Linked DNA regions of Homo sapiens. The protein of the gene in region 4 interacts with the protein of the main gene of each other region in a biochemical or structural test. Each region holds a gene or a part of one and is shown on either strand. Other genes may lie near its edges. The genes, in order: MC4R, MC3R, MC1R and POMC.

The links.
Region 1: the proteins of POMC (region 4) and MC4R form a complex in vitro, tested with the Homo sapiens proteins (2 studies listed by BioGRID).
Region 2: the proteins of POMC (region 4) and MC3R form a complex in vitro, tested with the Homo sapiens proteins (one study listed by BioGRID).
Region 3: the proteins of POMC (region 4) and MC1R form a complex in vitro, tested with the Homo sapiens proteins (one study listed by BioGRID).

Annotation. Positions count from the first base shown.
Region 1 is NC_000018.10:60,370,088-60,377,621, forward strand, and holds MC4R (melanocortin receptor 4), read right to left. Parts: upstream 2,689-7,534; 5' UTR 2,263-2,688; coding exon 1,264-2,262; 3' UTR 975-1,263; downstream 1-974.
Region 2 is NC_000020.11:56,244,243-56,250,626, forward strand, and holds MC3R (melanocortin receptor 3), read left to right. Parts: upstream 1-4,489; 5' UTR 4,490-4,601; coding exon 4,602-5,573; downstream 5,574-6,384. UniProt on the Homo sapiens protein: Receptor for MSH (alpha, beta and gamma) and ACTH. This receptor is mediated by G proteins which activate adenylate cyclase.
Region 3 is NC_000016.10:89,913,565-89,921,680, reverse strand, and holds MC1R (melanocyte-stimulating hormone receptor), read right to left. Parts: upstream 2,726-8,116; 5' UTR 2,423-2,725; coding exon 1,469-2,422; 3' UTR 709-1,468; downstream 1-708. Other genes in the region: guanine nucleotide-binding protein subunit gamma 4-like, read right to left, coding at 2,726-2,830, 3,634-3,805, 6,541-7,580. UniProt on the Homo sapiens protein: Receptor for MSH (alpha, beta and gamma) and ACTH. The activity of this receptor is mediated by G proteins which activate adenylate cyclase.
Region 4 is NC_000002.12:25,165,185-25,173,988, forward strand, and holds the start of POMC (pro-opiomelanocortin preproprotein), read right to left. Parts: upstream 3,397-8,804; 5' UTR 3,314-3,396; intron 502-3,313; exon of another isoform or gene 452-501; intron 1-451.

The DNA.
Region 1 (7,534 bases), on a different chromosome or scaffold from region 4:
TTAAATTACACACAGATTAGAAAGTACAGTACAAATTTTATTGCTCAGTGGCCAAATCTGTAGGATTATTTTGGAGCAAAACATTTTACTCTTCAAGAAGTGGCTGTGGAAGGCTAGTTTATTGCATGACATCCTCTGGGGTTTGGTAGGTGCCTCCCTTCCTGCTTAAAATGTACCAGCATCACAGATACCTTTATTTTAGTTATTTACAAATATTGCCAGAAAACACTTCTGCTATGAATTTGGTTTTGAAGTTTAAAATCCTTGATAATCAACATTTGTACTCCAGTTCAAAAAATCAGCAATAAGTAAACAGCAAGTCATTTTCATGTGAAATGAGAAAGAATTCGATGTCAGTCCTGTACTTCTCTAGAAACAGGAAGCTAAATCTCTCAGTACAATATTACCTTTTCTGGACACTTCAGCAGACCCTGAATCCTTGTTTAAAGGGGGCATAAATCCCCATTCTCTGTTTTATTAATATTGTTTAGGGATAATTTGGTAACAGGAAATTTAGCTTGACATGGCAACTTAGGTTTTCCAGGACACTTTCATCCCTATAGCTGCCTTTTCCCACCCACCCCAAACCGAATTGCCTGTGTGAAATATCAGGCTGTTTGCTAAGGGAGATGAATCTTTCTGTGTCTGAGAAGTACACATAGTTTTCTAACTCAGCATCTCTCTTTTTTCAGCACCTGTTTTTCTCTCTAGAGGAGCTTCATTTCTACTTCTGCACAGGGAGGATGAACAAACCTTTAATTAAATTACTTGAAATTTCAGTGATGATATTTTTAAAAATGATTATACATCTATTCTTTAAATATTTTCCCTTAACTGCTAGAATGAACTCTCTACATTTCAATGGTGGATAATATAATATAATAAAGCATTTATTAGAATATGTTTAATGAGGCTCTGATTTCTATGTTACGAAAGCACGCAAAGTGTCCAATGCTTATGAATAACACGAAGGAGACATTGTTAAGCTTTTAATAAGGACTTTTCTTTTTGTAAATCCACAGTGCCTACAACCTATAACATAGATTCATATTTTATGGCCAAAAAAGTAGCATGACATTGGAAATAATACAGAGACTGGGCATTTTTTCTCATTAAAAATCATAGGCTTAAATTTACACAATGGATATTCTCAACCAGTACCCTACACGGAAGAGAAAGCTGTTGCAGAAGTACAATATTCAGGTAGGGTAAGAGTGAAAAAGTCTCTTATGCATGTTCCTATATTGCGTGCTCTGTCCCCATTTAATATCTGCTAGACAAGTCACAAAGGCCTCCCAGGGGATAGCAACAGATGATCTCTTTGAAGGTTTTCCTCAGTTCTTGACTCCGGAGTGCATAAATCAGAGGATCGATGATTGAATTACACATGATCAGTATGAGATACAAGTTAAAGTGAGACATGAAGCACACACAATATGGATTCTGAGGACAAGAGATGTAGAATATTAAGTGGAGGAAGAATGGGGCCCAGCAGACAACAAAGACGCCAATCAGGATGGTCAAGGTAATCGCTCCCTTCATATTGGCACCTTGGCGGATGGCACCAGTGCCGGGGAGGACAGCAATCCTCTTAATGTGAAGCCTGGCCATCAGGAACATGTGGACATAGAGAGAAGCCATGAGAGCCAGCATGGTGAAGAACATGGTGATGAGGCAGATGATGACAGCACTACTATCTGAGTAAATGATGAACAAAATGCCTGAAACCGTGCAAGCTGCCCAGATACAACTTATGATGATCCCAACCCGCTTAACTGTCATAATGTTATGGTACTGGAGAGCATAGAAGATAGTAAAGTACCTGTCCACTGCAATTGAAAGCAGGCTGCAAATGGATGCAAGCAAGGAGCTACAGATCACCGAGTCAATGACATTATCAATATTCACTGTGAAACTCTGTGCATCCGTATCTGTACTGTTTAATAGGGTGATGACAATGGTTTCTGATCCATTTGAAACGCTCACCAGCATATCAGCCACAGCCAAGCTGCAGATGAAAAAGTACATGGGTGAATGCAGATTCTTGTTCTTGGCTATTGCCACAATCACTAAGATATTCTCCAACAAGCTGATGACACCCAGAGTCACAAACACCTCAGGAGAGACAAAAAGTTGCTCGTAGCACCCTCCATCAGAGTAGCCTTTTCCAAGGGACTCACTGGCATTGCTGTGCAGTCTGTAACTGCTGCGGTTCCAGAGGTGCAGAGAAGTGTGCATCCCACGGTGGGTGGAGTTCACCATGCTGGCAGGAGAATTCCAGTGTCCCCCTGAATTGATTTAACCTCCTGGGTCAGGGAGTCGTCTCAGTTATTTCCTCCAAGTCTTTATCTGTCTGAAAGTTGTGAGGCTAAAATTGCCATGCCTGCTGTGAGTAAATGTCACAAGTCCAGAGCTTGACATGGAGTTTTTAGTCTCTTTTAGGTACGACTCTAATCATCATCACTTTAAAATCTTGGGCTTCAAAATATTCATTCTCAGTTGAAAGAGTCTGCTCTTTGCTTTCTTGTTCTCACTTCTGCTTTAACTTTAATCTTATGCATTCAAGTCTGTTCAAAATAATTTTCCTTGAAGCTGCCATGCCATTGGGAGACGAATCTGTGCGCACATGCTCACATCGGCTGCCTCTCGGAAGCTTCTGTTTCCAGCCTGAGCGTTGCTTTGAGTGTTAGGGGCTGTAGGCGCCAGCTGCTGATTTTTATGATGTGTGGAGAGAAAAAAAACATGTTCACGGTGGCTCCTCCTCTGCTTCCTTCTGACCAATCCCAATGCAATGGGAGTCTGTGAGACAGGATTATGTTTCAGAGACACAAATTGCAGGGTGACACAGATTCAGATGCAGAAGCTCCTGAAGTCTGAAGTCGAGAAGCAAGCCGGATAAGAGACTGAATTTCCCTTTTTAAGTTTTCAAGGGAAACAACTTGATCCCTAGAGGCCATTCTGTGATATCAAAACAAGCTATCTTCAGGCAGCCAGGTTCATTCTTATGTAAAAGACATCATGTGTGTGTGTAAAATGAAATGGAAAGTATACTGTCTTATGTTCCTGAAACAGATACTCTGCTTTTTGGCTAGGATACTGAATTTATTTACCTTCTTAATTTTTTGTTTTTATTAAGAACCCAGCCAGTAGTGGTTCAGTTAAAATACCTGAAAAACAGAGAGGATATTTAATGATACAGATAGACATGGTATGGCTGGAAGAACTATGTAGGTAGCTATAAATTATGAATGGGTTCAAAAGGGGTTGATTTTAATGCACTAATATCCCATATTTCTCTATTGAGGAGTTTGTGTTATAGCTGAAAAAAGGTGCTTTTTATTTACAATATTTTAAACTCATACGGCATTAATGTAACTATGCTTACACTGAACTCAGGAAAATAATAAGCTGCATTCTGTTTTTTTTTTTTAAGCAACTTTTTTTTAAACCTCCAGAGTTTAACGTATCGTAAGTTGAACCGACAAATACCTAGTAACTTTACTTATCAAGCCAAGACTGGTGATACTAGTTAGTTATTGAAGTTTCTGAATATTTTGCTTAAGGTGGTTTGAAAGATGGCAGCAAAGTTACTTTCCAAATTAACTGAACAACAGATTATACAAAATTTTGTATATTCTTTTCTTCTATGATTATTTTTGGTTTTAGTGCTCTATAGTTTGTAGCTGCTTATTTCAGGGTTAATTCTGAATCTCAGTTACTTAGGTTGGGAATGTATCCTCTTTCCTTTTGTGACAGAGACAATACTAAGTATTGTTCCTGAGCATTGAGATAAATTAACGTCTTCCATCCACCTTTGGAATTGGGTAGGACCTTATGACTAAATTCTAGCTAATGGCATGTTGACAGTGGGGCTCATCGCATTAGCTCTTTCATAATTTTACACAAGTTTTCTCTCCTGTCTTTGAAATCTCATGTTACAGGTGGCAGGACCATATCATGAAAGGAGCCTGTCTCTTGAATGATTGCACAGAGCAGAACTCACACCTCCAACTCCCTTCCCCTGTATTTCTGAATGCCTAATCATCTGTATATTGTAAAATGCTGGAATGGGCTTTCCTGAACATCATGAGCTGGAAATAATCTTACCTTCCTCTTGCCTTATTTTTTCTCTTTTTAAAAATTGACATATAATTCACATACCAAAAAAAATCACCTCTTTAGTAATTAAATGGATTTTTGGGGGAATATATTCACAGAGTTGTGCCATAATCATCACTTTCTATTTCTAAAACATTTTCATTATCCCATTAGCAGTTGCTCCCCATTTTACCCTTTCCTTATCCTCTAGGAACTGCTAATCTACTTTCTGTCTCTATCAATGTGCCTATTTTAGACATTTTATATGATTGAAATAATGCAATATGTGGCCTTTTGTGGCTCACTGTTTTCATGTAGCATAATATTTTCAAGGTTTGCTTACACTATAATGTGAATCAGAATTTGATTTTTAAAAAATTAAAACAGGATCTTGCTCTGTCACCCAGGCTGGAGTGCAGTGGCATGATCATGGCTCACTAGGTTCAAGTGATCCTCCTACTTCAGCCTCCTGAGTAGCTGGAACTAAATGTACCTCCACACCCAGCTAGCTTTTAAAAAATAATTTTGTAGAGATTGAATCTCATTATGTTGTCCAGGCTGGTCTCAAACTCTTGGGCTCAAACGATATTCCCATCTCGGTTTCTCCAAGTGCTGAGATTACAGGCATGAGCCACTGTGCCCAGTTTTGATTTGTTTTTATGGCTGAGTAATATTCCATTGTATGTATACATTTATATATATATATATTTTTTTTTTTTTTTTTTTTGAGACGGAGTCTCGCTCTGTCACCCAGGCTGGAGTGCAGTGGTGCAATCTCAGCTCACTGCAAGCTCCGCCTCCTGGGTTCACGCCATTCTCCTGCCTCAGCCTCCCAAGTAGCTGGGACTACAGGTGCCCGCCACCGCACCTTGCTAATTTTTTGTATTTTTAGTAGAGACGGGGTTTCACCGTGGTCTCGATCTCCTGACCTCATGATCCGCCCGCCTCGGCCTCCCAAAGTGCTGGGATTACAGGCATGAACCACTGCACCTGGCTGTATACATTATATTTTTAAATGTATTCATCAGTTGAGGAACATTTGGGTTATTTCCAGTTTTGGCTATCACGAATTATGCTGCTAGGAATATTTATGGACAAATTCTTATGTGACAGATGATTTCAATTCTTTTGGATACACAACCAGGAATGGAATTGCTGAATCATATGATAACTCTGTTTCTTGTTTTGAGGAACTGCCAAACTGTTTTCTGAAGTGGCTGCACCATTTGACATTTCCAGTTAGCAATGTATGAGGGTTCAAATCTCTTCACATTCTTGCTAGCACTTGCTATTGTCCATCTTTTTTATTTTAGCCATCATAAGGATATGAAGTGAACTCTCATTATACTTTTGATTTTCATTTCCCTAATGCCTAATGATACTGAAGATGATTTTACATCCTTACCAGTTACTTGTGTAATAATCTTTGGAGAAATGCCTATTCAAATCCTTTGCTCATTTTTAATTGGATTTTTTTAAATTATTGAGTTGTAGTGGCTCTTTACATATTCTGGGTACTTTTGCCATTTCAATTATTGATAGTGTTCTTGAAACCACAAACCTTTTAATTACGATGATGTTAAATTTATCAAATTTTTTTGGTTGCCTGAGCTTTTGGGATCATATTTAAAAAAGGATTGCCTAACCCATGGTTATTAAAGTTTACACTTATATTTTGATATCTTCTGTTTGATGAGAAATTGTTCTCATAATTTCCTTTAATTTTTACGTATAGTTTTCGCTAATCCTTTGAACATGTTTGAACTGATTTAAAGGCTTTATATATTAAGTGCAACATCTAGACTTCCCCAGGAATAATTTCTGCTGACTTCCTTTTCCTAATGTGTATGGGCTATATTTTCTTATTTATTTGCCTGCATTTTATTTATTCATTTTTGTTAGAAACGGGGAATTTTGAATAACACAATCCAGCAACCCTGAAAATCAGATTTTCTCTCTTACCCAGGGTTTGTTGTTGTTGTTGTTTGTTATTGTTGTTGTTCAGTAATTTTTCTTAAATAATTCTAGAATGTCTGTATTCTTTGTCTTGTATGATCAATGAGGTCTCTGCTCTGATAGCTTATTGGTCAGCTGATAAGTGGACAGAGATTTCCTTAGATGTCAGGAACTAACATCTCCCCTAGTCATTGCTGAGAGACTCTGTGTCCATGATGGGCATGCCTTTGACACTTAGCCAGGCACTGGGCAACTCTGCCTTGGCCTTACCTTCTGCTTACACACAGCCACAAAGGTCAGCCAGAGGTGAGAAGTCAAGACCTTCTTAGTTTTTGTTGTTGTTGTTGTTGTTTCTGATCATAAGCACAGTCCTGCATGTTTGTACGGCTTTCTAGATTCTCAGGAATATATTAGAGTTTTAATAAATTCCTATGGACATCTCATTTTCTTGAGCTTTTTCTTTTAGGCTTTTTGAATAGCTGATTTTTTTTCGCCAACTTCTATCCATTGCCTTAGGCAGCCATGATGTTAAGCAGTTGTTCTGATTGTTTCCAACAAATGTCCCTGAGGAAAAGACTGTTCTCCGTGGGTGAGTTCTGAGTTAGGTCAAATAAGAAACCCCTGCAAGTAGAGTTTGTCAGGAAACCAACAGATAGGTCAAAATAATGATGGCATCTCTGGTAACGGGAATGGAGCTTTGAAGAAGATCCAACCCCATTTTGCACCCTCCATTTCCTGCTAGACTGATGCTTTTAAACATTTTTATAGGATGTTAGTTGTCAAAGCTACTGCAGAGCTGGTGAGTTTGGAATGGGAAAATATGTCTAGTTAAAATGCTGCAAGTTTCACTCTTCTTACTTCAATTTAGCCATTTTCCTGAATAAATTTACCTTGGGTTATTTGAAGTATTGGTCAATTTTCAGAGTTCTGAAAGTGTTAATCCTGACAAGCTTTGCAAGTGCTCTAGTTGTTTTAACCGATGAGAGAATTTTCAATCATCCTGATGCTCTCATTTCCACTCTCATCTTCCATCTATTGCCTTTTATCTGAAAAAAGATTAAATTATATTAGATTCATCTATGGCAATTTTCTTCCTTAACAGACTATCTAATAAATGATCAAATAGTTATTTCATACTTATTCTAAATCCTATATAAACATTGCATATAAAAACAGAATAAAAGAACTGGTTAAAAACTTGAATAAAATAAAAATGTTAATTTAGAAATAATAGGTGAAATTAGTAATAAAGAACAAAATTAATTACTCCCTTAAAATTTTTTTCCCATAAAAATGTTTTATTTATGAACAAAAGGATCACACTGAAGTCCCAGAAAATTACATACCCTCAACATCAAAAATTTAATCACTGGGTGTAGATTTATAAGATCTTTATTGTAAGGTTAATTGTGCTGAAAAGTTGATCTCGAATATGGTATTTTATTTGTCCGCCATGGTTCATATTTCTCTACGAGCCAGA
Region 2 (6,384 bases), on a different chromosome or scaffold from region 4:
GCTGAAGAATGTATCTATTGCCTCTGGCCCTCATTAGTTGAGCGTTGCCCCTGGGGTCATTTACTCCCCCCTCATTTCCAGGTTGAACTTTGTCAGATGAGGAATGCCACACACACACACACCAGGGAAGACTCTGGGGCAGAATGTGTTCGTCACCCTTAAAGTGGCACCCTGGCAGTGTAAGTTGAATCTGAGCTCCCACGGAACTGGGGGAGCTGTCCAGCAAACGGCTGTTGAAATCAGAGGTAAGCTGGGTGCAGGGACACAGGCATCAGCAGCATCTGCCCCTCATGAAAAGTTCATATTTATAATAAAATCTAATCGTTGTGTTCTAACATGACTGCTGGCCAAACTGTCCCCCTTTTCGTGGCATGGATGTGACCTCTAATTATGCAATATTCTGCATGTCATTTTTAAAACAGCTTTGTTGAGATAGCGTCAATATACCATACAATTCACCTAAAGTGGACAATTCAATGGATTTTTAGTGTATTTTAGTATTTTCACTAATGACTAATCATATTGAGTCTTTTTTCATGTGCTTGTTGGACATGTGATATCTTCCTCGGTGAAATGTCTATTCAAATCCTTTGCTTCCAATCATTAAATTGGGCAATATGTCTTTTTGTTATAATATTAAATTGTAAATGTTCTCTATGTATTCCAGATACATGTCCCTTATCAGATATCTGATTTGTAATTACTTTCTCCCATTCTTTGTGTTGTCTTCTCATTTTTGTGGCATCTTTTAAAACACAAAAGTTGTTAATTTTGAGGAAGTCCAATTTACTTTTTTTTTTTTTTTTTTGAGACAGTGTCTCGTTCGCTCTGTTGCCCAGGCTGGAGTGCAGTGGTGCAATCTCAGCTCACTACAACCTCTGATACCTGGGTTCAAGCAATTCTCTTGTCTCAGCCACTCGAGTAGCTGGGATTATAGGCGTGCACCACCACACCTGGCTAATTTTTGTATTATTAGTAGAGGAGACAGGGTTTTGCCATGTTGGCCAGGCTGGTCTTAAACTCCTGACCTCAGGTGATCCACCTGCCTCAGCCTCCCAAAGTGCTAGGATTACAGGCATGAGCCACCATGCCTGGCCCACTTTTTTTTTCTCTTGTTGCTTGTGCTTTTGAGAGTGGGGAAGGAGTACTGAACCCTGTCAGCTTGTCAGCAAGGAGAAAGGGTGGTAAATTAGTGTATGAAATTTAAGAAAAGCTGTAAAAAATAGTTGACATTTAAGCTGGATCTTGAAGAATAAGGAGGGTATACCAGTCACAAAATTGAGGAAGAGCTTTTCAGGCAAAGAGACCACCTGGGTTCATTATCTCCTAGAATAAGAATCTCCTTGTTACATTTATTATAACTGATTCAAAACAGACACCCCCACATATGCCAACAACATACGGTAAACACTGACAGAGACTGTCATGTCCTACAATTGTTATTAATAAAGCCAATTCATTCATGCAAGATTCAGTTAAAACGTAATGCTGCATCTGTGCAACTCCCCCAGGAAAGTGGGAAGTAGTGTTTGGAGAAGACCAAATAAACACTCATGAGTGATGATGATACCTCTGAGGACACAGATTTTAAGTACTAGGTCCCAGCTGCTCTCTTTGAAGGATGCACACGACCAGAGAATGAAAGCAGGAAAAGGTGGTCAGTGCTCAGCACGTGCCAAGCACAGAGCAGGAAAAGACCTAGTAGATAATGAATGGTCCCTGCCTTATAGTCTAGCTTTACATGTATGACTCATGCCCTTGAAACCACAGACTGGATGTGACCCTGAGGGTAAGAGAAGTTCCCAAAAGGATTAAGAATGTGTTTTTTTCCAACCTAGAAGAATGGTGGCTTGGCATCAGAAATTAAGTCGTTCTGTTGAAAATAAACAGAAGTGGAAATGTATATTCAGGGCAACTTAAACTCATGCTCTTGACAAAATATTTTTTTAAAAAAAGCAAATAAACAAAAGTATTTCTCATGCCCCTCAGTTCATAGACAGAAACTCATACCAACAGGCTTTTTTTTTATTTTAGTAAGAACTGCCAAATGGTGAAACTATTCACAAACACTAGAAATGCATGAGAGTGTCCTCCCGATATTCTTACCTGAATTTTGCATCTTTTTATCTCTTGTCAATCTAGCTGGGAAAACGATATTAAAATCTCATTTTGACTGGCATTTCCCCAACTTCCTAGATGGCTTCACATCTTTTCATGTTTATTAACCATTTGCATCTTCTCTTCAGTAAATTATTATTTATATCCTTTGCCCAATTTTCTTAGGGGTAATTTATCTTTTTCTAGTTAATGTGAAAGTAGTCTTTGTATGTAAGAGATAGTAACTTTACCTATAGCAAATATTTTCATTCTGTTTTTCTTTTAACTTAGTTCAGGGTGTTTTTCCATACTAAATTTTGGATTGCTCATCTTGCTTAAGATCTTTCCACCCCAAGGATCCTAAGTTTTCTTCTATTTCCATATGCATATTTTTAATATTTCTCACACCTACACACACATACATAGTTACATGGAGAGATGGATCATTAATTCACCTAGAATGTGCGTGTGTGTGTGTGTGTGTGTGTGTGTGTGTGTGTGTAGGGATGAGAAGACTCAGTGTTTTCTGAGTTCATATGATCTACATGGGGAATCAGATCTAACATGGACCAAGTGTTAAACCATACTTCCAAGAACAACACTACATTAGTAGGCCACCTGCTAACTTCTGCCTTTCACATTTTCCAGCTTAAAACATCTCCATCCTCCCCATTATGTAAGAAAGAAGTACAGGTGTTTCTGACTGCTCCCTCTCCCATGATCCCATAACCCATCAGTTCTGAAGCTGCATTATCCAACCTTCTGAATCTCTCTGACCACCCTCCAAGTCTTCCAAGTCCCCATGGCCACTCCCTTGCTCCAGGCCACCATCATCTCACCCTGGGTCTTTGCAACACCCTCTGCCCCGGACTCCCTGGCCTACATGCTCAGTCTGTCTAATTCATTCTCCACCCTGCAACCAGGAATATTTCTAAAATGCAGACCCCATCTCATTCCTGCCCTACCTATGTTTCTTCCACAGTCCCCATTGCTGTCAAGGTACTGTCCAAATTCTCACATCTGGCTGAGGCTGTCCTTCAGGATTCAGGCACCTCTCAACTTTTTAAGAAACTGTGCAGCCTCATTTCTCAGATTGTGTCTCCTATTTCCATGCTCTGACCAGAGCAGACTACTTTCAGCACTTTCAAAAGCCCAAGATTCTTTTTCAGTGGAGCTCAACTGTGACTATGCCCCAGCTCACCTGTCAAAAATTGCAAACACACTTGTTCAGGTCTTACACCTGGGTGATTCTGACTCCGCGGGTCAAATGGGATCTCCACATCCACAATCTGTGATGACTTCTATGGCCAGGGTGCTCTCTGCCTCCAGGCTGCAGACGTGTGATTCCCTCTGCCTGGAGTCCTCTTCTACCTCCTCCAGCTCCAGCCCCCACCCCACCACCCACCCCAAACTGGATATGACCTCTTCCTCCTTGAAGTCAAAGCATAGGTGCTCCTTCCTCCAGGAACTTTGACAGTCCGGGTTAGGGCTCTTCCTCTTTGCATCCCTGGTTTCCTGGACTTTCCTGATTCAAGCATTTATTGATTCCTCTTCTTCCACCCCAGACTCTGAGTTCGGGGAAGCCTGAGATAGTGGCTGTTGTCTTGCTCACCACTGTATTTCCTGCACTCAGCAGAGACCTGACACATAGTAGGCGCTCAATAAATGTTTGCTAAACAACAACAACAAATGAATGAACTAACAAATAAACAAACAAATGAACAGATGAGTGGATGCCTGTGGCAGTTTCCATGACAAACACAAAGGGCTAAGCCAAGCCAGCAAGCAGACAGCCGTGCGGCCTGCAGAGGGCACTAGTCTGCTTCTTAATCTCCCTGCAGAATCCTCAGGGCCAGGTACCTGCTGTCAGTCAGAGAGGTGCCCGATGCTCAGTGGTCATTCTGCTGCGCTGAAGATTAAGTAGGAGTTGTTTGCCCTTGGCCAATATGAAAAACCTGAGTGTTCTCCCTTCACTTCTAGCGACAAGTAACACATCCCCTGTCTTGCCATGAAAAGAGCTGTAACTGTAGCAGCCGGTGGCAGGTTTTCTGTTCCCAGGTGGGGAAGTGAGGAGAGACAAACAGAGGGGTGAGAGGGAGACAGAAGGAAGACAGCTGGTAAGAGACCCTATGGTGTATTTTTTCTATGTAAACAAGATAAAAACTGCTCCTCCTGGAACAGCAAAGTTCTCCCTATGTCTCCAAGCTACAAACTTGCATGCTAGCTACTAACTAGCTACTCTCCCTCTCTCTCTCTCTTCCCCCTTCGCTCTTTCTCTCTGTGTGTATGTCTCTCTCTCTCTCTGTCTCTTCCTCCACCCTCTCTCACTATCTGTCTCTCTACCCTCCCCATCCTTTTATTCTAGAGGAGAATAAACTCTAAGGCCAGATTGAATGAGCATCCAAAAGACGTATCTGGAGGGAGATTTTGTCTTTCCTGTGAGCAGCAGCAGCTTCCTACGGACCCTGCTGGAGCCCCAGCTCGGATCAGCCCTTCTGACAGCAATGAATGCTTCGTGCTGCCTGCCCTCTGTTCAGCCAACACTGCCTAATGGCTCGGAGCACCTCCAAGCCCCTTTCTTCAGCAACCAGAGCAGCAGCGCCTTCTGTGAGCAGGTCTTCATCAAGCCCGAGGTTTTCCTGTCTCTGGGCATCGTCAGTCTGCTGGAAAACATCCTGGTTATCCTGGCCGTGGTCAGGAACGGCAACCTGCACTCCCCGATGTACTTCTTTCTCTGCAGCCTGGCGGTGGCCGACATGCTGGTAAGTGTGTCCAATGCCCTGGAGACCATCATGATCGCCATCGTCCACAGCGACTACCTGACCTTCGAGGACCAGTTTATCCAGCACATGGACAACATCTTCGACTCCATGATCTGCATCTCCCTGGTGGCCTCCATCTGCAACCTCCTGGCCATCGCCGTCGACAGGTACGTCACCATCTTTTACGCGCTCCGCTACCACAGCATCATGACCGTGAGGAAGGCCCTCACCTTGATCGTGGCCATCTGGGTCTGCTGCGGCGTCTGTGGCGTGGTGTTCATCGTCTACTCGGAGAGCAAAATGGTCATTGTGTGCCTCATCACCATGTTCTTCGCCATGATGCTCCTCATGGGCACCCTCTACGTGCACATGTTCCTCTTTGCGCGGCTGCACGTCAAGCGCATAGCAGCACTGCCACCTGCCGACGGGGTGGCCCCACAGCAACACTCATGCATGAAGGGGGCAGTCACCATCACCATTCTCCTGGGCGTGTTCATCTTCTGCTGGGCCCCCTTCTTCCTCCACCTGGTCCTCATCATCACCTGCCCCACCAACCCCTACTGCATCTGCTACACTGCCCACTTCAACACCTACCTGGTCCTCATCATGTGCAACTCCGTCATCGACCCACTCATCTACGCTTTCCGGAGCCTGGAATTGCGCAACACCTTTAGGGAGATTCTCTGTGGCTGCAACGGCATGAACTTGGGATAGGATGCAGGGCCATGGAAATGATCATCAGTCGGGTCACTTTTGACTTTCCATCCACGTGAGGTGTTTAGAAAGAAAAATATATATACTTAGAAAATATAAAAATGTGTTAACAGCCATGATTGTACTTGTCGTTTGTTTTTAAGTTTACAAAGCCTTTTAAAGGGGAAAATTGGTGAACAACAGATTCTCTGAAAGGATTCCAAGATGGGTAAGTCACAAACTCTGATTTCCCAAATAGTCACTGGGAGAAATCAGCGAAGGCTTCTCTGCATGCTCTCTGCACTCATTTCCAAACACCCAGGGTGTGCGACGCCTGTCTGCTCATCTGCTCCACACCCACGTCTTCATGCTCCAGGCCAGACCAGACTGAAGGATTCTCATGAACAATAAGGGTGGTTCAGATCTCTTGCAAGCAAACCTGTTACAGCTACGACCTCCTGCTGCCAGCTACACGGAGAGATAGCTTTGCACTTATAACTCCGTAGGAGACTGAGTTCTACTCTATTATTCTATTTACAGTTAGACAATTGTCTCTTTGTGAAAGGAGCAATGCTATGCCGTTTTCCCCTTTTCTTACCCCCATATCCCTTCAGTTGTCCCCACCCCCAAAGGTAGCATGAGGATGTAACCCACTTCTATTTTTCTGTTGTTGTGTTGGTGTGTGTTGTTGTTTTGTTTTTATGGATTAAATCTAAGACAACCTTCAAAACTCTAACGAAAGAGAGAAAGTGCTTTGGACAATCAGAATATACTTGTGTACGTGTATTTTGATACCTTGCTATTTTAAGGTATAGATTAATCTTTTTAAAAT
Region 3 (8,116 bases), on a different chromosome or scaffold from region 4:
TTCAGCAGAGGGATGGCCCAGGGGCGCCACTGCTCCCCAGCACCAGGCAGCATAGTTCATCCCCAGGTACTCACTCCCAGGGACTTCTCCGCCGGCTGGGCCTCTGCCTCACTGCCATCTTCAGAAGCCTCACATCAAGCATTTCCCAGGACTGGCTGAACACAGACCCTCCACCCCCGACCCCTTCCCCACCTGCCTACTCCCAGAATGGCAGTGCTGGGCAGACAGCAGACCCAGCCCCCAGCCCACCTGCACTGAGCCCCCTTCCAGGCATCTCAGAGTGGACAGGGATGGTCCCATTCACGGCTCATCATGGCTGGAGGGACTCAGGGCCAGGGCCAGCAAAGGGATGTGTCCCGGCTGAGGTCACATGTGGTCACAGGGAAGGCTGGGAACCCGCCTCTTCTGCAGCTAGGACAGCGTCAAGAGTGGAGGGGACTGGGGCCCTGCTGCACCTGCTCGTCCTTCCTCTAGGCTGGGGTTTGTCAGCACGGAGAGAAAACCGAGAAGCAGGGTCAGCGCAAGCCTGGTTGGGACCTCCACACTCCCCAGGCATTTGGGGCCTCTGGGGCTGTGGCTTCCTCACCTGGGGAGGCAGCCACGTTTTCCGGGACTCCTTTCTTCCCTCTCGACTCTCACCCCTGCCCACCTTCCCCTCCCCCATCCCTCCACCCGCAAACTTCAAGCACTTTCTGGAAGGGGCTAAGGTGGGTGATGCTGAGTCACATTTATTACCAGACTTTCCTGGCCCCATGCTCACAGGCACTGGTCACTGAGTCAGGCATTTGCCAGGGCTGTCTGCTTGGGCGACTGCTGCAGGAAAGCAGGCTGAGGCCCCAGTGCCCAGTCTGAGCCTTAGAACCGGCCCTCAGGAGGGCTCAGCCCCATACCACTAGGGGGGCTCCTGCAAACCTGGTCCCTTGGCCTGAGGCAGGGATTTCACCTCCTTTTGCAGGAGCCGCTGCAAGGCTGTGGATGAAGCTTTCTGGTCACAAAGCCCCTTCTCCTGGGGCTGCTGTGGGAGTAGCTCTTGGCACACACTTCCACCCAGAGACTTCACATCCCAGCTGACGAGGGCACGGTCCTGAGAGCTGGCAGCAAAGATGGGGTGGGGTGGATGCTGCTCAGTCATTGGAGCAGACGGAGTGTCCCAGGAGTGGGCGGAAAATGTCTCTTTAGGAGCCTGAGGTTGGCCCCTGGTGCCCGGAGCCTGAGGCCCCACAACCTCCCCATGTCCTCCTCCGTTCCCCACGACTGCTGGTGAGAAGTCCTGCCTGGAGTTTTGCAGGGACCCCTCCCTGGACCCAGAAGGGTCCGCGCTTCAACACTTTCAGAGATCATTTAGTCCATCCTCTTTGACAAACGGGGACCAGGGAGGTAAGGAACTGCCCAGGGTCACACAGGAACCAGACCACACAATATCACCACCTCCCTCTGCCCAGCACACTTAAAGCCGCGTGCACCGCGCTCACCAGGAGCATGTCAGCACCTCCTTGAGCGTCCTGCGGAGCTCCTGGCTGTGGAAGGCGTAGATGAGGGGGTCGATGATGGCATTGCAGATGATGAGGGCGAGAAAGAGGTTGAAGTTCTTGAAGATGCAGCCGCACGTGGGGTGCTCGGGGCAGAGGACGATGAGTGTGAGATGCAGGAAGAAGGGGCCCCAGCAGAGGAAGAAAATGCCCAGCAGGATGGTGAGGGTGACAGCGCCTTTAAGGCCAAAGCCCTGGTGGACCGGGCGCTGCCTCTTGTGGAGCCGGGCGATGCCCTGGGCGTGCTGGCAGGCCCGGGCCAGCATGTGGACGTACAGCACGGCCATGAGCACCAGCATAGCCAGGAAGAAGACCACGAGGCACAGCAGGACGGCCACGTGGTCGTAGTAGGCGATGAAGAGCGTGCTGAAGACGACACTGGCCACCCAGATGGCCGCAACGGCTCGCCGCGCCCGCGGCAGGGTCACGATGCTGTGGTAGCGCAGTGCGTAGAAGATGGAGATGTAGCGGTCCACGGCGATGGCGCCCAGGAAGCAGAGGCTGGACAGCATGGAGCTGCAGGTGATCACGTCAATGACATTGTCCAGCTGCTGCAGCACCGCAGCCCGGGCCACCAGTGCACCGGCCTCCAGCAGGAGGATGACGGCCGTCTCCAGCACGTTGCTCCCGCTCACCAGCAGGTCCGACAAGGCCAGGCAGCAGATGAAGCAGTACATGGGTGAGTGCAGGTTCCGGTTCTTGGCGATGGTGGCCACCACCAGCGCGTTCTCCACCAAGCTCACCAGCCCCAGGCTGAGGAAGAGCCCGTCAGAGATGGACACCTCCAGGCACCGGGCTCCTGTCTGGTTGGCAGCCAGCCCCAGCTGGGGGATGGCTGTGGGGGTGGAGTTGAGGGAGCCCAGAAGTCTTCTCTGGGATCCCTGCACAGCCATAGTCCTGTCCAGGAAGCAGGAAGGAGTCGTTGGAGGCCTCCAGGTCCCCACAGTTCTTCCCCTCCAGGTGTCCTGCTTAGTTCATGGTGCTGCCAGGGGGCCTTGGGTGTCCCCCATGCCTGCCTCCTTCCATCTGGGCACCCCCAGATCTGCCCTCACACCCTCTCCCTGGCTGGACAGGTCAGCCCAGGCATGGCCCAGCCAGTCCAGACACCTCCTGGCATCTACCGCCTGGGCTCAGGGATTCTCACAACCAAGCCTGGTCCTCAGCTCCCTCCCTGCCTCTTCCCTGGTGGCTGCTGCTCAGGTCCCCAGGACATTTCGACACCTCTGGACCGTCCTGGCCTCTGTCTCCTGCCTTCCTGGGCCAGGGCTGCGCTGAGGTCCTGGGAAGAATGGAGCTTTTCTCTGCGTTTTAAAAAGTCGTTCTCAGAGCCCCTCCCACTGAGGGCGGCCACATGCCGGGGGCGTGAGCACCCACCATGGCCCGGCCTGCCACCAGGCGGCGTGCAGGACCCAGGGGGTCCCTCACACCGCGGATCTCCTTTACGTTAAAAAACACCACAGTCTGTCCTGGTCACCAGGGCCCCCACCTGGCCGCCCCTCTAGGAGTCCGGAGCTTCCCCGGGACCTGCCCTCTCCAGAGGCCCCACCCTTCACCCCTCCCCTCGTCAGCAGCTCAGGGAGGACAGGGGTCCCCTCTGCTCTCAGCCAAAGCACGCATGGAGCAGCAACTCAGCTGTCAACGTTCACGGCAGATTTGGGGGCTGGACCAGGGAGAACTTTCCAATAATTAAAGTTCTGGAAACTGAGTGAGCCCTGCAGGAGTTTGCACATCGCGCGGGGTGAGGGGGCTTCCGGCCAGGGCAGAGCGTGAAAGCGTCCAATGCTAGTGAGCCCTGGAGAGGTTGGTGTTTTCAGGCATCTTGTAGAGCCTGAGGCCACTCTGGCGCCTGCCCCCAAGGGCCCAGCCTCGCCCAGCCAGAGTGGCGACCCCCTCAGCTGCAGCCCTGGGGCTGTGGGGGTGTCGCTTCCTGGGAGCGGACCGGCTGGGGGCACCCTAGTGAGGTCTTCAGGGACCCTCCAGTCATCTCGTCGCTCATCCTCACAGGGGCACCCGGGACGCTGCTCCCGCCCTCCCCGGGCGGCGCGCCATTTCCGCTGCGGAAGGCACCACAGGCCCTGCACCAACAGCCACATCAAAGGCAGACCTCTCGCCTCCAGCCGTCGCACGTGGTGCTCCGCAGGCCGTTCACAGCAGTCGGGCGTGGCCCCGAAGCCCAGCAGGGACGGTGGAGAGGGGCCCTGGCACCCACTGCAGGCATCTTCCTGGGTTCACTCCAGGGCGTTCCCAGCACTTCCTTGCTGAAGACTGCGTCTGTGCTGAAGGGTGGAAGCGGGAGGGGGATGGAATTACTCGTCCCATTTACAGCTGCAGGAAAGGAGGCAACGGTGCAGGCACCGCATCAGGGTTTTCAGTTTTGTGTCTGCGATGTTCGAGTTAAAATCCATCCTGTCTCTCGCCCAACTGCCAAACTCTGACCATGAAATGCTCACACCACTCACAAGCCACCTCCATGTGTGTGAGGACATTAATATTTTTCATATTTACTGGTACAGTAAATACTTGTTACAACCGCATTTTACAATTTATAAATCTTTAGTTTTGCTTTAAAATTTTTTATTATTGTCAGCCATGGTGGCTCAGGGCTGTAATCCCAGCACTTTGGGAGCCCAAGGCGGGTGGATCACCTGAGGTCAGGAGTTCGAGACCAGCCTGGCCGACATGGAGAAACCCCGTCTCTACTAAAAATACCAAAATCAGCCAGGTGTGGTGGTGGGTGCCTGTAATCCCAGCTGAGTCAGGATAATAGCTTGAACATGAGAGGCGGAGGTTGCCGTGAGCCGAGATTGCACCATTGCACTCCAGCCTGGGCAACAAGAGCAAAACTCTGTCTCAAAAAAAAAAAAAATTATTATTGCCGGGCACAGTGGCTCACCCCTATAATCTCAGCACTTTGGGAGGCTGAGGCAGGCGGATCATGAGGTCAGGAGTTCAAGACCAGCTTGGGTAATATGGTGAAACTCCATCTCTACTAAAAATACAAAAATCAGCCAGGCGTGGTGGCGCACGCCTATAATCCCAGCTACTTGGGAGGCTGAGGCAGAATTGCTTGAACCCAGGAGGCGGAGGTTGCAGTGAGCCGAGATCACACCACTGCACTCCAGCCTGGGAAACAGAGATACAGTCTCAAAAAAAAAAAAATATATATATATATATATATACATATAATTTTTATGTATTTATTTATTTTGAGACAGTTTCACTCTGTCGCGCAGGCTGGAGTGTAGTGGTGCATTCTTGGCTCACTGCAACCTCCACCTTCTGGATTCAAGCAATACTTATGCCTCAGCCTCCCAACTAGCTGGGACTACGGCACCCACTACCACACCTGGCTATTTTTTGTATTTTTTGTAGAGATGAGGTTTCACCATGTTGACCAGGCTGGTCTTGAACTCCTGACCTCAGGTGATCGGTCCGCCTCAGCCTCCCAAAATGCTGAGATTACAGGGATGAGCCCCCACACCCCATCTGCTTTAATTTTTTTTTTTTTTTTTTTGAGACGAAGTCTCACTGTCACCCAGGCTGGAGTGCAGTGGCATGATCTTGGCTCACGGTAGCCTCTGCCTACTGGGTTCAAGTAATTCTCATACCTCAGCCTCCTGAGTAGCTGGAACTACAGGCGCGTGCCGCCACACCCGGCAAATTTTTGTATTTTTTTTAGTAGAGATGGGGTTTCACCATGTTGGCCAGGACGGTCTTGATCTCCTGACCTCATGATCCTCCCGCCTCCGCCTCCCACAGTGCTGGGATTACAGGCGTGAGCCACCGCGCCCGGCCCTAAAATGTTTTAATTGAGGTACAACATACATGAAAATGCACCAGTGATAAATATGCAGGTTGACGGATGACAGACCTGAACCAGCCACATAAGCAGCACCAGACCAACAGACACAGCGTTCCCACCCGGACGGCTCCAGCGAGCCGCTGCCAGCCCATCTGGCCCATCACGTGAATGGTGTCCCAGTTCACTCTCTCTGGCTGAGATTCGCCTATGCCGGTGGCTGTAACCGTCTGCCTCAGACCGTGGTGTCCACGGCGTGAACAGACCACGTCTGGGTGGCTTCAGACTCCCTATCAACGATACCGTCTGATGGACACAGGTGCGTCTGTGGATTGCCACCCGGGGGACATGGGCAGGGACCTCTCTTCAGCTTTGGGAGACTTGGTCAAACCATCTTCAAATCGGCAGGCCTGTTTCTGTTCACACACGCAGCCCCAGGCTGCTCAGAGGAGAGAGCGCGCCCTGCCCACACCACCACAGGACCTGGTATCCGGCCACAGCCACAGAGCCTCGGCCTCAGCCCAGCCTTTTGCCTCCCATGACCTTTGCCCCCTCACGCTGTGCTTCCAGCATGAGCACAGGGGAGAGAAGGGTCCCAAGGTGTGAGAAGGCCAAGCCTCTGCCTCGGGAAGGAAGACGGCTCCACTGGTGTGAGGGCCGTGGCTGTGTCCCTGCCCCAGGAGCACCCCCGACGTCCACAGCACCTCACAGACCCAGACCCAGAGCCCGCTCACCTCTGGCCATGAACCAGTGAGCAGCCCCTGCCCCAGAGCACTGTCCCCTCACATTTCAAGGACGTTCGTGTTTGCAGCTCCACAATGAGGCCTTTGAGACGGACGGCGGTTAACCCCAGCCTCCACTGCTACCCCCCAGCCCGGGACTTGAAAGGGCATGAGAACTGGGCAGCCTTTTTCGTGCCAAGATGCAGCTGGAGGGCATCGGAAGTGGGGTGACCCTGCCACAGGACTCCCACTGTGGTTCCTCACTGGATGTGCCTGTCGGGGCTTCGTGGGAAGATGAGGCACAGCCGAGCTGCAAAAAGTCAACTTTTTGATGTGTTATGGTCATGGGGGAGATAAATTAGCCTCGGGATGATCTGTGATTAGATGACATCCTACAGCTAATCATATCTCGATTTTGGTCTCTTAGTGCCCCTGGAAACACTGCATGCTGAGTGGCCGGAAGACACGTGGGGCTGGCCCATCCGCTCACCAGGGTCCCCGCCACAGGCAGAGGCACCGTTCCTGCAGAGCACTTTCCATCCAGGTGTTTCTGGACCAGCGACCCACGAGGAGAATGAAGACAGACGTCTTCCTGCGTTTATTCAGTGTCTGGCATCCAGGGCCTGCAACACACACACAGGCACACACACACACACAAATGTGCACCCACACACACAGGCACACACACACACAAATGTGCACCCACACACACAGGCACACACACACAGGCACACACACACAAATGTGCACCCACACACAGGCACACACACAAATGTGCACCCACACACACAGGCACACACACACACAAATGTGCACCCACACACACAGGCACACACACACAAATGTGCACCCACACACACAGGCACACACACACACAAATGTGCACCCACACACACAGGCACACACACACACAAATGTGCACCCCCACACACAGGCACACACACACACAAATGTGCACCCCCACACACAGGCACACACACACAGGCACACACACAAATGTGCACCCACACACAGGCACACACACACACACAAATGTGCCCCACACACACACAGGCACCCACACACACAGGCGCACACACACACAAATGTGCACCCACACACACAGGCGCACACACAAATGTGCACCCCCACACACAGGCGCACACACAAATGTGCACCCCCACACACAGGCACACACACAGAGGCACACACACAAATGTGCACCCACACACAGGCACACACACACACAAATGTGCCCCACACACACAGGCACCCACACACACAGGCACACACACAGGCACACACACACACAAATGTGCACCCACACAGGCGCACACACACACAAATGTGCACCCACACACACAAATGTGCACCCACACACACAGGCACACACACACAAATGTGCACCCACACACACAGGCACACATGCATACAAGTGTGCACACATACATACGTGCACACACACACACAGGCACACACACACACACAAATGTGCACCCACACACACAGGCACACACACACAGGCACACATGCATACAAATGTACACACATACAAATGTACACACATACATACGTGCGCACACACGTTTACCCACACACGCGTGCACATACAAATGTTTACCCACACACGTATGCGCACACACAATGTTTACCCACACACGTGCACACACGTGCACCCACACCACATGCGCACACACACAGGCACACACAAATGCGCACCCACCCACACACGCACACACACACACATCTGCTCAATGTGTGCCCGAGGGCTGCGAGAGGTAAAACATCTCTGTGGCCCAGGGAGTGGCCTGTCCAGCTGCGGCCACAGACATGGAGGTGGGGGTCACCGCCGGACCAACAGTCCCACCGTGGTGGGCTCCAGTACAGCTCCCCAGGACAGCTGGACCCACAGCTGATCTCAGCCCTTGGTTCAGGGACCATTTCCTTTGAACTTGGGGGTGGGGGTGTGGGAGGTGGCAAGCAGGGTTTCTCGTGGGCTCACCGTGGTGCCTGCATTGAAGGCTTTGGGGGGTTCTGGCTCAGTGGAAAAGGGCCCGGCTGGTGAGCCACGCTGCCTGTGGGCACCC
Region 4 (8,804 bases):
ATTTCACTACATTAAGCTGTAGTTCTAACATGCAAGATCTCAGGAGTGAAAGTAACTTGGGAAAAACGGAGGACCCTGAAACTCCTGCTCAAGATGGTCTTTTCCCTTTTTATTCCACCAGGATCCTATCATTCCTCTGAAACTCTATTTCCTATGAATATTAGGTTGACAGAAAAGCAAATAAAACCACTGGCCAATTTAGGCAGCATTTCGAGCAGCCTGATTTGATGTCCTGCACACAAATTACTCTGGTGATCACTATTACCCAGACTCCAGTAACTTTGGAGAGCTTCGTTTTTAAAGCAGATCTCAGTTCTTTGAAATCTGGCTCATCTTCTGGACACGTCACGTGTCAGATGTCTTGTTCTCTAGAGCTCTCAAATGTGGTCTGAAATGGCAGGATTTGAAGAGGATGCAGATGTGGAGGGGAAAGAGACCAGAAGGGAATTACCTCCTGGTGGAACAGCCACTGCAGATACTTTTGGAGAATCCAGCAAGTGCCTGTGGGCAGAAGCTGAGGTCAAGACACCAGGGGACAGTAAGGAGGGGGCATCCATGGTGCCCCTAGCCCCCTGTACCCACCCCTCTCTCCAGCACTACCCTCGCACTGCCAAATTTCCCTTAACCAGGTGGGCCCCCTGAAGCCACCTCGAGGCCGGAGATCAGCTCACCGCCAACCCTACAATCATTTTGGATTTCAGAAGATCTTCTCAGCCAGCTGCTAGAAAGAAATGTAATTAGATGAGAAAAGTAATTCACATTAAAGCGTGGATGACTAAGTGTCTTGTCACTCCTAATGAACGCTGGCATTTTAAAATAAGTTTGCCTAAAATAAATCTCTCATTTGGGGAGGCGTGGGCCAAATCTTTTTTATATAGGGGAGGCTTTGGAAGTGAAAGTCCTCTGAAGCGCTGATTTCTACTTCAGGAGGCCACTTCCTTCTCTCTACCCCACCCTCGCCCTATTCCCCAGGCGCTGGGCCTGCACGGTGCTAGCTTCTGAAGGGTTGCCGGGCAAGGCTGAGCATTTTCAGAGCAGCCATTAGATGGCACTGGCAGCCAGTGACTGGCCCAGGTGCGCTTCGGCTAAAGGGGCAACTGAACGAGCTTTGGTCAACCTTGGTGTCCTCTCCTGGCTCCAAGGGACAGGCTGTTCCCATTGTACCCTGCCAGTGATCTATTCAAGTACACAGCCAGAACTTGGTGGACCAGGCAATTAGATTAAAGCTCCAAGTTGACCATAGCACATTTAGCTCTGAAAAATGCCCAGATGTTACAGTCACAGAAAAATGGTAGTTACGTATGTCACCAAATGCAAATGTAAAGTAACATATTAGTAAAGGAAAAAACAAAATCTTACAGGTCTGATAGTTCCCTCAATTATATTTCAATTCTTGTCAAAGATAACTACTCTGGAGTGATTTCCATTTGCTAGAAGCAATGACTTCAGGCCTTCCTGGAAAGCCCCAGAGAGCATTTCCCCTCCTTATGCCCTATGTGCTGTGTTGTACAATGTGGTAACATATTCACTCCCACCCTCTCAGAGCTTATATTCTGTTGCTAAACTGGTTAGATGGCTGCTATTGCTAAAACTTCAGATTCTTCCCTGAAAGATGGTCTTGTGTTTGTATTGTATATTTTGCTTATGTGTATGTGTATTTGCTTATGTGTATTTTCAGTTCTCTACAATGAACAAATAGTACCTTTTGTGTCATTTTTAAAGCAACAAATTATTGGGGAAATATCAAATGTTGTGCTTTTTTAAGTAGGGAAAGTATTATAATCCAAAAATGGAAAGCTCTGGAAAAATAGAAACTTGAAATTTGCTCATCCTGAGATTAACTTTATAGTAGAACTACACTTATTAGAACTTCATAGGTGTGAGGGGCTCTCTATGAGCTCAACAAATCATTTTGCTTGTTACTGTAAAACTGCACGCTGGCCATGACCTTTTGTAAAGATTAGAGGAGCACAGGGGCCGAGTTTTGTCCTTACACCATGACATACATGCATCGAGTCCTATAACAAAAGCATCAAAGGAACAGTAAGTCATTAAAGTGGCCATAATCTGTGCAGAGTTTATAAACTGACACACACACAAAAAAAATCCACACACACTTTTATTTTCCTTGGCTCCTTCCAGCCATTCTGTAAGAACCCTCCCTGCCCCATTTAAACATGAAGAATTTGGGGAATCCAAATGCCAAGTGGACTGTCTCTCCTTCGCTGGAAACGCCCCTTACCTGAGCCTTGATCATTCCAAATGGCTGCCCGTGCCCTCAACCCAGGATCTGCGCCATAAACCGTCCACCCCGGTTCTGTTGAGGGCATCCGAAACTAGACAGTGCGTTTCAGGATCTAGGACAGCTCCCGCCCCGGCCACCTGTTTTTAACCCCAGCTAGGTCTTGGAGAGAAGAGACCCAACTATTCTGCATTGTAATTGACCCAGTTATCATGTAATTATCATAGCGCGGCCACCTCGGGTGCGCTAAGGTGGGCAAGGAAACAAGGATTCAGGGGTCTGAATCCGAAAAAATCCGGAAGGCAGGGCGTTCATTATGACTTTTATCCTTTTCTCTGCTGCCCCGTTTCCAACATTAATTTGCGATAGCGTGTATGGAATTTGACTTTCAAGATGTGACACCTATCCTGGAAACTGGGAGCAAGAGATACTAAAAGACCGGGCTGGCCGGGGGCGGTGGCTCGCGCCTGTAATGCCAGAACTTTGGGGGGCCAAGGCGGGCGGATCACCTGTTGTCGGGAGTTTGAGACCAGCCTGACCAACATGGAGAAACTCCGTCTCTACTAAAAATACAAAAATTAGCCGGGCGTGGTGGCGCATGCCTGTAATCCCAGCTACTCGGGAGGCTGAAGCAGGAGAATCGCTTGAACCCGGGAGGCGAAGGTTGCGGTGAGCAGAGATCACCCCTTTGCTCTCCAGCATGGGCAACAAGAGCGAAACTCCGTCTCAAAAAAAAAAAAAAAGACCGGGTTGTCCCAAGACCTCCTAGCAAGCTCTCGGAGCCTCCGGACCGCCGCGAGCCCCTGGGGGAGAGGAGGCCGCCGGCTCCCTGGAGACAGCGCCTGCAGCTTCGCGGCCGTCCGCCCAGGGGCCGGACGTGGGCCCTCCAGCTCAGCTACTGGCGGCTTCTCATGCCGCAGTCGGCGCAGAAAGTTTGTCGAGAACTCGGGACCGCGGAGAGCCAGAGGCGCCCAGGTCCGCCTTCGGAGCCGGAGCCGGCCGACTGCATCGCGAGGACGGGGACAGGGGATCCCGGGGAAAGAGCACGGGTCCCCCACGCTGCGCCCTTACCTGTCTCGGGAGGCTGCTCTCTGAGGGCGGGGACGCTCGGCGGCCTCTCTCGGTCGCGGCTCTTCTTCCCCTCCTTCGCCGCCGCTTGGTCCCGCGCTCCTCTGTCCTTATATACTTGCCGAGCTCTCCTGGTGGGCGCGGGACTTTGACCTTCCCGGCAGCACAAGGAGCAGCTCCCCGGGCCAGGGGAAGGGGGGCCGCGGGGCGTGGGAGGGGGGCTTCCAGACGGGGGACGAGCGCGGGGAGACGCGCTGGAAAGGGGCTGGAATTAGCACTGTCCTGCCGAAGGCGCACCTGGCCGCTCGCCCTCAGGAAGAACTTAATTATGGATGGCGTTGGGTCTCCGCTTAGAACGGGCGGGAGGCTTAGCACCCCCGTGTGGGGCAGGCCGGGCAGCCTCTGAGGTCGTTGAGGCGAGGGTGAAGTTACCTGCGTGCGTGCTGGGGCTGGCATCTGCCTGGTTCGCATTTGGCGGTAAATATCACCGTCTGCACACGGGGAGGCCTCCGATTTCCCCATTGTTTGGAAACTGTGATGTGGAAGTCGTGGGGAATCATATTCTCTCTGTTCCACTTTGGGGAGGGGAGGAGGGAGCAGAAGTCAGGAGCCGTCTTGTGGGTGTGAAGGTGAGTTGCACTGCTCCCCTGGGGCCTGCTCTCCAAGGGCCTGGTTTAGGGGAGGCTCCCTTCCGTGTCCCAAGCCTCAAGGAAAAAGTCCTGTTAACCTAAACCATTAAATGGGGAGAGGGTGATGCTGTGAAGAGCAGCTGAAGTGCTTTCCCTGTGGCCTCTGATCCCTCCCTTTGCCATGAGCTGGCAGGGTGGTCTGGGGACTCAGACAATTTTCAACATCCCCCTTGGCCCTGGAGTTCTGGCTTGGCTTTAGTTCCAAATATCAGACCAGAGAGAAGAGTACAGCACTCAAACCAAGCTAAGAGACTCTACCTTAACCTGGAGTAAATAAACAAAACCAAATTGTGCGATGTGGTGGGTGTGGGAGGGAGTATTGGGACTAAACTGGACTTCAAATCAAGACACTTGCTTAATCTGCCAAATGCCAGAACTTTCCTGATTCCCCATGAGATGCTCTTTTGGACTCCAGGACTCTCTTGTGGATTCAGCTTTTCTGGTGACATTGGCTTTACATTCAGCAATCCTTTCCCTTTGGACCACAAGAGAGATCCAAGCTCCGTCACAGTAGACAAGGTGCTTCATCACCCGGCTTTGGCCCCTTTCCAGGGCCATTTCCCAGTTCTCCACCTTGCATCCTGGCACTTCAGCATCCACAACATTCACACTGCTAGAACATGGCTTTCTTGGGTCTCCATTGTCCAAGCTGTTCCCCCAACTAGAACATCCTTCCTCTCTCCAGCCATCCAGGAGCTTGACTCACATCAAGATGTAGCCCATCCATCAGCCCCTGTTCTCTGAAGCCCTCTTTGGCCACTTTTCCTACCAGGGGCATGAGGCATGACCTCCTCTGCCTTCCACAGAAGTCCATCCCCATCTTGTCAGTGCAAGTGGCTTGCACTAATTCACTTCTGTCCCCATTTTTTTAATCTTCCATCCACCCCACGACCACCATCAGGTTTGTAAACTCTTTCAAGCAGATGGTGGTTTTGCCTTATTTTACTTTGTGTTATTTTTGTAACTTCAGGAGGCTGCTGGTGGCAGCAGATAAAACAAACCAGGAAAAATCCAAATGGACCCAACTTCTTTAACTGGGTTCCTTCTTTCTTTTCTTCTCTCTCTCTCTCATTCTGTTTGTTTGTTTTTGAATTAGGGTCTCACTCTGTTGCCCAGGCTGGAATGCAGCAGTGTGAACACTGCTCACTGCAGCCTCCACCTCCTGGGCTCAAGTGATCCTCATGCTTCAGCCTCCTGAGTACCTGGAACCACAGATGCATGCCACCATGCCCAGCTAATTTTGGGTTTTGGTTTTTTGTTTTGTTTTTGTTTTTGTTTTTGGTAGAGACAGGGTTTCACTATGTTGCCTAGGCTGGTCTCAAGCTCCTGGGCTCAAGTAATCCACATCAGTATCCTGAAGTGCTGGGATTACAGGTGTTAGCCACCACACCCAGCCCAGTTTCTTAATTTAATGCAGCAGAACCTGCTTTGGCCTCCATGAACTGAAAGGCCATTGAACTGCATTTAGAATCACTGGGTAGGCGGGGCACAGTGGCTCACGCCTGTAATCCCAGCACTCTGGGAGGCTGAGTTGGGCAGATCACGAGGTCAAGAGATGGAGACATTCCTGGCCAAGATGGCGAAACCCCGTCTCTACTAAAAATACAAAAATTAGCCGGGCGTGGTGGCGCACACCTGTAGTCCCAGCTACTCGGGTGGCTGAGGCAGGAGAATCGCTTGAACCTGGGAGGCGGAGGTTGCGGTGAGCCGAGATCGCGCCACTGCACTCCAGCCTGGCGACACAGCAAGACTCCATCTAAAAAAAAAAAAAAATCACTGGGCAGGTTGGGGGACCAGGATCTAAAAATGGGCAGGGACACAGTGTGGCTGGAACCATGGCCAAAATCACATCCAGTGGAGAAAAAAAAAACAGACCACAAGGGGCCACAAGGGGCATGTCAAGACCACAGGCGTCTGACATAGACGTCACTTCTGTCCCCAGGATGGGACGCTGCCATTCTCACTTCAGCTAATGCCACTAGAAAGGAGTCACCACTGCCCTTGCATCCTTGTACCACTAGCTCCTCTTTGAAAGCCTAGAACAGGTGCCTTTGATTGTCTGACATGACATAATTTTTCACCTTTATTCTAGTAATGTGGTGAATTATTGCATTGTTGATTTTTTGGTGTTAAACCTACCATGGCTTCTTAGATTAAACCCAATTTGATTATGATGTATTATCCTTATACAGAAAGCACTGGACTCAATTTGCTAATATTTTATTTAAGACATTTGCATTGATGTTCATGAGATGGGCCTGTAATTTTCCTTTCTTGTGGAATTCTTGTCTAATTTGAGTATCAAAAAATTATGCTGTTCTCATAAAACAAGTTGGAAATCCATCTTCCCTCCCCCTTTTTATAATTAAGTAGAATAATTTGCGTATAATGGTGTTATCTCGTCCTTAAATGTTTGGGATGATTCACCAGTGATGCCATCTAAATCTTTAAGATTGTTTGTTCATTGAAGTTTTTAATTACAGAATCAATCCTTTCAGCTGGAGCTGGAAAAAAGAAGGAAAAATGTTTTAAACCATTACAAATTCAATTACTTAAGTGGCACTATTTCAATTGTCTACTTCTTCATGTGTCAGTTTGAGTCAGATATGTATTTCTAGGAATTTGTCTATTTCATCTAAATTCTTTAATTTATTGGCTTAAAATTGTTTATTATATATTTTAAGCATCTGGGATCTGTGGTTTTGGCCCTTTTCATCTCTGATATTGGTTATTTGTGTTCTCTTTTTTCTTGATTCATTTTCTTTTTTCTTTTTGAGACAGACTTTCACTCTTATTGCCCAGGCTGGAGTGCAATGGCATGATCTCGGCTTACTGCAACCTCCGCCTCCCGGGTTCAAGCAATTCTCCTGCCTCAGCCTCCCAAGTAGCTGGGATTACAGGGATGTGCCACCACATCTGGCTTATTTTTTGTATTTTTAGTAGAGATGAGGTTTCTCCATATTGGCCAGGCTGGTCTCAAACTCCTGACCTCAGGTGATCTGCCGGCCTCAGCCTCCCAAAGTGCTGGGATTACAGGCGTGAGCCACTGTGCCTGGCCTCTTGATTAGTTTTCTTAGGGTGTTATCCATTTTATTAGTCTTTTTAATAATCCATTTTGGTTCTGTTAATTTTCTGTACTATATGTATACTTTTTTATATTTCTGAAATTTTTACTCTTATTATATCGTGCCTTCTACATCTTTGGGTTTAATTAGCTATTCTTTTCCTATACTCATGAGTTGGACATTAAATAAATACTTTTACTTAGATAATTGATATTGAACCATTTTTTTCCTTTTTTTTTTTTTTTTTTTTAATATTGCCTTGACTCATCTTCAACTCTTGGGCTCCAGTGATCCTCCCACTTCAGTCTCTCTAGTAGCTGGGACTATAGATGCATGCCACTGTGCCCAGCTCCTTTATTCTTTTTTTACATATGTATTTATGGCTATATTTTCTTTCTAAGTACAGCTTTATATGCATCCCACAACTTTTGATATGTCATATTTCAATTACCATTTGTTCAAAATATCTTTTTATTTTCATTGAGATGTCTTCTTTGACCTATAGGTTATTCAAATATATTCTGCTTAACCTCTAACCCTTCCAATTCATATTACCAACTTAGAAAAAAAAGAAAAACTTCTAAACCTTGGGGATTTTCCAGTCATGTTTTTAAACTAATTTTTTGCTTAATTCCCTTGTAGTCAGAGAATATGCTCTGTTTGATTTCAGACCTTCGAAATTTTTTGAGGCTTGCTTAACAGATAAACATAGGGCTCATTTTGATTAGGGCTTCCTGTGCACTCCAAAAGAAGTGTCTCACTGCACTGTATTCTGTGACTGTATATTCTCAAATATTCTATATCCTTTCTCTACCTATATCCTTGCTATTTGTCGTCTTATTCTATTAGTTACTGAGAAAAGTATGCTTTTTAAATCTCCTCACTATTTTTGTGCATTTCTCCATTTGATCCTGGCATAAAAACAGCACAACTCAGCCGGGCACAGTGGCTCACGCCTGTAATCCCAGCACTTTGGGAGGCCGAGGCAGGCGGATCACCTGAGGTCAGGAGTTCCAGACCACTGTGGCCAACATGGTGAAATCCCGTCTCTACTAAAAGTACAAAGATTAGCCAGGCATGGTGGCGCATGTCTGTAGTCCTAGCTACTCAGGAAGCTGAGGCAGGAGAATTGCTTGAATCCGGAAGTCAGAGGTTACAGTGAGCCAAGATCATGCCACTGCACTCCAGCCTGGGCAACAAGAGCGAGACTCTGTTTCAAAACAAAACAAAACAAAACAAAACTCTATGAACTGAATGGTGATTGTGGGTGGAGGGTAATGTTGGATCAAGGATAAAGATGGCAGAAAGGGCCAGGCGTGGTGGCTCATGCCTGTAATCCCAGCACTTTGGGAGGCCAAGGCGGGCAGATCGCAAGGTCAGGAGTTCGAGACCAGCCTGATCAACATGGTGAAACCCCATCTCTACTAAAAATACAAAAATTAGCCAGACATGGTGGCTTGCACCTGTAATCCCAGCAATTTGGGAGGCTGAGGCAGGAGAATCGCTTAAGCCTGGGAGGCGGAGGTTGCAGTGAGGCCATTGCACTCCAGCTTGGGCAACAGAGCAAGCCTCTGTCAAAAAAAAAAAAAAAAGGAAAGAAAGAAAGAAATAGAGAAAAGAGAAAAAAGGAAATTCTGAAATCTGGCCTGGCACGTGTGACCACGTGACCAGTTCCTTCAGAAGGCAGTTCCACTGCCCGGAATGAATCTCCTTAGCTCTTGGTTCCATCCTCTGGGCTCT